2 separate regions of the Homo sapiens genome follow, and region 1 is linked to region 2. A link means that fine-mapping ties the variant in region 2 to the expression of a gene that starts in the linked region. Tissue or cell type: whole blood. Region 2 holds a variant in brackets; the other region holds the start of a gene. All regions are shown on one strand. Distances are from middle to middle.

Region 1 (2,681 bases), 150 kb before region 2:
AGAGGTCAGGTGTTGTCCCATTTCAGGGGAACCCTCTTCTCTGGCTCCCTTATATCCCAGGTACATCCTCCCAGGTGTTCTGTCTCAAGCTGGGAGGGTACAAGAGAGGTGGCCGCAGTCTCTCTGTTAGCTTGGAATGGGCAGAGGCCATGGGCACTTGAGGCAGGCCTTCCCACCCAGCCCTCAGCCCCAGGGCGGGGAAGCACCTCAGGACTGCAAGGAAGCTGAGATCTCCAGCCTTTGGGGGGCATGGCCGGCCAGGCCCTGGGTGCCTTGTCACCTGGGAGGGAGTGCGGCACCTGAGCGTTGGGAGCCCTCGCTGGCTTGCTGTGTGATCTCAGTCATGTCGCCGTCTTCTTTGGGCCCCACTTTCCTCTTACGTAGAATGGGAAGGGGTGAGTTAAATGCTGAAGGGCCTTCCCAGAGCTCTGTCCCTTTGTCCAGCTCTGGTGGCCTTAGCAGCCTCTCCCTAGGGCAGCTTACCTTGGTGTCAGAGCCCTGTTCAGCTTCCTTGTGACAGGGAAGATACCAGGTACCAGGGGTGCCTGGAGGGCAGGGGGAGCTGTCACTATGCCCCTGCCTCTCTCAGTGTCTATCTCTGTTTTCACCCAGGCCCAAGGCCAGAGCTGCTCAGAATGGGACATCCATGTAGGGGACCATGATGATTTCTGGATTTGGAAGCAACAAGGAATCTCGGGGGGTCCTGCTCAGTCCCTGGGGCGCCTACAGAGGCCAGCGGTGGGCAGCGCCTTCGACCTGGCCAGCCATGCCTCCCTGGGGCCTGAGAGCCTGGCCCTGGAAGTGGCCTCAGGAGAGTCTGCTCGTACCAGGCTCCCCCAATACCCAGGGCCTGCTCCTGGACATGGGGAGCAGGGATCCTCAGGCTGCACCTGTCAGCAGTCTCCACCCACAGCTTCAGAGGTCCCTCTGAGGCCTGAGCCACCCAGCAACCTGGAAGACGCACCCCTGCTGCTCCACCCTGCATCCTTCCCCAGGGCAGAGGGGACAAAGGGCAAGCCCGCCACCCCAGGGACTGCCTTGCCAGAGCCTGCCCAGACCCTACACACGCGTCCCTCTTCCAGGAGGACCCGCTACTACATCACTGTCACCCTGCTGGGGCACAGGCAAGCACCAGGGGAGGAGGGTGAAGAACCGGCCCAACCAGCTCCACACCTCTGCGGCCCTGAGGAATCTGAGGGCTGGTGGGAGCCTCCCCAGGGGCCACGCCCCATCACAGGGTGCCGGACGGCCCCGCCTCAGGAACCCCAGCTGAGAGCCCAATCGCATCAGGGGAGCACGGCCCAGCAGCAGGAGCTCCAGGCTGGCTGGACACCTGGGTCCCCACGCAGACTGTGAGTAGAGGTCGGTCTGTGTGTGGAGATGGGAGGGGAGACTGGCCTGGCTGCCCTGTCTTGAGACTTTGCCTATTCCCTGGGCCTCTCCAGCTCTAGGCCCATTCATTCAGGACCCTGAGCCGACTCTGCCTTCCCTCCCTGCTCCAACCCTGCCTTCCTCTCCCTCCCTTTGCCCACAGGCTACCTCCTGGAACCCACTGCTTCTCACCCCCACTGTCCATCTGAGAAAGGGGAAAGTCTGTCAGGGAGAGGATGGGCAGGAAGGGGGGTTGCCTTCTTCACAGCATACACCACTCCCCAGTTCTGTTCAGGAGGCCACAGACTCAGCCTGGGAATTGGCACCCAGCCTAGGTGCTGGGTGTCCTGAGGCGAGTTGCTTAACCTCTCTGGGCCTTGAGTTGTTGAGAGGATTTGGTAGCTGAAAATGAGGAAGGAGGAGGTGGCTACAGGAATATACTTTGAACTCCAGAGACTGGGGGTGCCAAAATAGCAGGGATGCTTATTAATTACGTCTCAGTGACAGCAATAATTACCCCACCTGGCTCTGAGCTGGAAGCCAAAGGAGTGGGTGTCGAGTTTCCCAAGCCTAGTTTTATTTGTGTTGAAATGACTCTCCTAAATCTGCCTGGGGGGCGCAGAGGTGGAAGGATATGTCCCCCAAAGCTCATCAAGGAGGGATGAACATGGAACCTCCCAGGGATGACCCTGAAGAGGAAATGAGCCTGGGGTGGGGTTTTGAAGGGTGCTTAAGGATGATGGGGTGGCTGTCATTTGCAATTTGTTTTCTAAGCATAATTTTATTTAATCTTCCCAACCATCCCATGAGTAGGGACTGATCCCAACCCCTGTCACCTAATTCTAGGAGGCTCTGAAAGTCACTTGCTCAAAGTCAACTAGAAAGTGAAGGGGCTAGAATCTGAACTTAGGTTTCTATAACTCCAGTGCCTGTGCTCTAACCACTGCTCCATCCTGCCTGGAAGAAACCTCTTTGGCCCTGTGCAGAGAGTGGAGGGTTGAGTGAGGTTGCTGTGTGGGCTCCAGGGTTTTCTAGGCTCCTATGGCGGTGGATTGGGCAGCATTGTAGTAGCAGAGGCAGAATCAGGAATGCTGGGGTCCTCCAAGCAGGGGTCAATGTGACTGCTTCCGTGCCAAGGAAGAGGGAGATGTAGGACCCAGGCTGGCTCTGAGACCTGCTTGGATGCCCCAGAAGTCAGGGGCTGGGGGACAAGGGCTGCAGAGAGAGGGAAGGGGGGTGGAGGAGGCTACCTTGGAGAGGGGGACGGGAAAGAGAAGTAGGGTTAGCTGGGGGGAGGTGGTTTCTATCTG
Region 2 (2,681 bases):
ATACCAGGGAGAGAGAATTTTACTTGTGCAGGTAACTATGTCTCATTCCACTCAATGGCTACTCTAGACAGTGCAAGTCAGTAAAAGACAGAAATCTGTTATCTCAATTGGTGTTTGATTTCTTGATGCCTTGTTTGATATTAGTTTCCTACTGCATTGAATATGATTCTAGTATTTAAAGATACGATTTTTTTCTTTTTTGAGACAGAATCTCGCTCTGTCACCCAGGCTGGAGTGCAATGGTGTAATCTCAGCTCACTGCAACCTCAGCTTCCCGGGTTCAAGCCATTTTCTTGCCTCAGACTCCTGAGCAGCTGGGACTACAGACATGAGCCACCATGCCTGGCTAATTTTTGTATTTTTAGTAGAGACAGGGTTTTACCATGTTGCCCAGGCTGGTCTCAAACTCCTGACCTCAAGTGATCTGCTTGTCTCAGCCTCCCAAAGTGCTGGGATTACAGGGATGAGCCACTGTGCCCGGCCTAAAGATATGAATTTTTTGAACAATATGACCCCTAACTGCAAGCCGAGTGTTTCATTGAGTGTCATAGCAGTCAAGGATCATTTTGATATTGTTCAAGTGTCACCCTGCCCAGGTAAGGTGCTGCTCCAATGCACAGGCACATTAAATCCTTACAACCAACCTGTAGAAAAGGACTATTATTTCCATTTATCAAATGAAGAAACTGAGGATCAGACAGGTGAAGACATCTGTCCAAGGTCACACAGCCAGGAAGTGGTGCCACTGCATTTGAAACAAAGTCCATCAGACACCAGAACCCAATGCCTTCCCTACCACACTGCACTGCCTTACAAAAACACAGCTTTATTCTCATGGTTGAGCCAGCTGCTCTCTCTAGAAAGGCCCAAATCAATTATGTTGGGCTGGATTCCTTGGAAACCTTCTTCTTTCCCCTGGGTAATGGGCAGAAATAGGCCCATCACCTGATGTGCTGTTTTTGCATTCTTGGCAGTTTTCTTTCTTTCTTTCTTTCTTTCTTTCTTTTTTTTTTTTTTGAGACAGCCTCACTCTGTCACCGAGGCTGGAGTGCAGTGGCGTCATGTTGGCTCACTGCAACCTCTGCATCCTGGGTTCAAGTGATTCTCCTGCCTCGGCCTCCCAAGTAGCTGGGACAACAGGCGCATGCCACCGTGCCCTGCTAATTTTTGTGTTTTTAGTAGAGATGGGTTTTTGCCATGTTGGCCAGGCTGGTCTCGAACTCCTGGCCTCAAATGATCCACCCGCCTCAGCCTCTCGAAGTGCTTGGATTATAGCCGTGAGCCACCGTGTCCAG[C/A]CTCTTGGCAGTTTTCAAAAGGCTAACTCAGAAAATTGGAGGCTGGCCAGGCATGGTGGCTCACGCCTGTAATCCCAGGATTTTGGGAGGCTGAGATGGGAGGATCACCTGAGGTCAGGAGTTCGAGACCAGCCTGACCAACATGGTGAAACCTCGTCTTTACAAAACACACAAAATTAGCCAGGCGTGGTGGCACACACCTGTAATCCCAGCTACTTGGAAGGCTGAGATAGGAGAATCGCTTGAACCCGGGAGGCACAGGTTGCAATGAGCCAAGATCATGCCATTGCACTCCAGCCTGGGCAACAAGAGCAAAACTCAAAAAAAAAAAAAAAAAGGAAAAGAAAAGAAAAGAAAAAAAACTGGAAGTGACCCAGCCCAGGTGGCAGGCTCATTCTTTGTCCTTCCCATCGCCTAATTCTGAAGATGCACCAACCCTTCTTTTCTGGCACCATCCACACCCTCACTTTTTTTTTAGAGACAGAGTCTCAGTTGCCCAGGCTGTAGTGCCGTGGTGCAATCATGGCTCACTGCAGCCTCAAACTCCTGGGCTCAAGTGATCCTCTTGCCTCAGCCTCCTGAGTAGCTGGGACTACAAGTGCGCACCACCACACTCGACTAACATTTTTCTTTTTATTATTTATTTATTTATTTGAGATGGAGTCTCACTCTGTCACCAGGCTGGAGTGCAGTGGCGTGATCTCAGCTCACTGCAACCTCTGCCTTCTGGGTTCAAACAATTCTCCTGCCTCAGCCTCCCGAGTAGCTGGGACTACAGGCGCACCACATTGCACACACATTGCACCACACCCAGTTGATTTTTTTTTTCCTCACTCTGTCACCAGGCTGGAGTGCAGTGGCACAATCTCAGCTCACTGCAACCTCCACCTCCTGGGTTCAAGTGATTCTCCTGCCTTAGCCTCCCGAGTAGCTGGGACTATAGGCGCATGCCACCACGCCCAGCTGATTTTTTTCTTTTCTTTCTTTCTTTCTTTCTTTCTTTCTTTTTAAAGACAGATTCTCACTCTGTTGCCAGGCTGGAGTAAAGTGGCACAATCTCAGTTCACTAAAACCTCCACCTCCCGGGTTCAAGTGATTCTCTTGCCTCAGCCTCCTGAGTAGCTGGGACTACAGGCGCGTGCCACCACGCCCAGCTAATTTATTTTTTATTTTTTTAGTAGAGACAGGGTTTCTCCATGTTGGCCAGGATGGTCTTGATCTCTTGACCTCATGACCTGCCCCCCTCAGCCTCCCAAAGTGCTGGGATTACAGGCGTGAACCACTGCACCCAGCCTTCTTTTTATTTTTTGTAGAGATGAGGTCTCACTATATTACCCAGGATGGTCTCAAACTCTTGGCCTCAAGCAATCCTCCTGCCTTGGCCTC

The links. PIP is the estimated chance that this variant, and not a neighbour inherited with it, causes the effect. A credible set is the group of variants that fine-mapping cannot tell apart.
Region 1: it holds the start of CRYBG2, and the variant in region 2 is the best candidate, but not a certain one, in a credible set for the expression of CRYBG2 in whole blood (INTERVAL, PIP 0.61).

What each region holds. Positions count from the first base shown.
Region 1 is chr1:26,352,717-26,355,397 of GRCh38, reverse strand. It overlaps CRYBG2 (crystallin beta-gamma domain containing 2), which reads left to right and starts at 1,268. Exons shown (of 20, transcript NM_001039775.4): 1 at 1,268-1,362.
Region 2 is chr1:26,206,103-26,208,783 of GRCh38, reverse strand. No RefSeq gene overlaps it. Among named protein-coding and RNA genes, the nearest start is that of CATSPER4, 17 kb to the right of the region's middle. The variant C/A (reference allele first, on the strand shown) is at 1,296.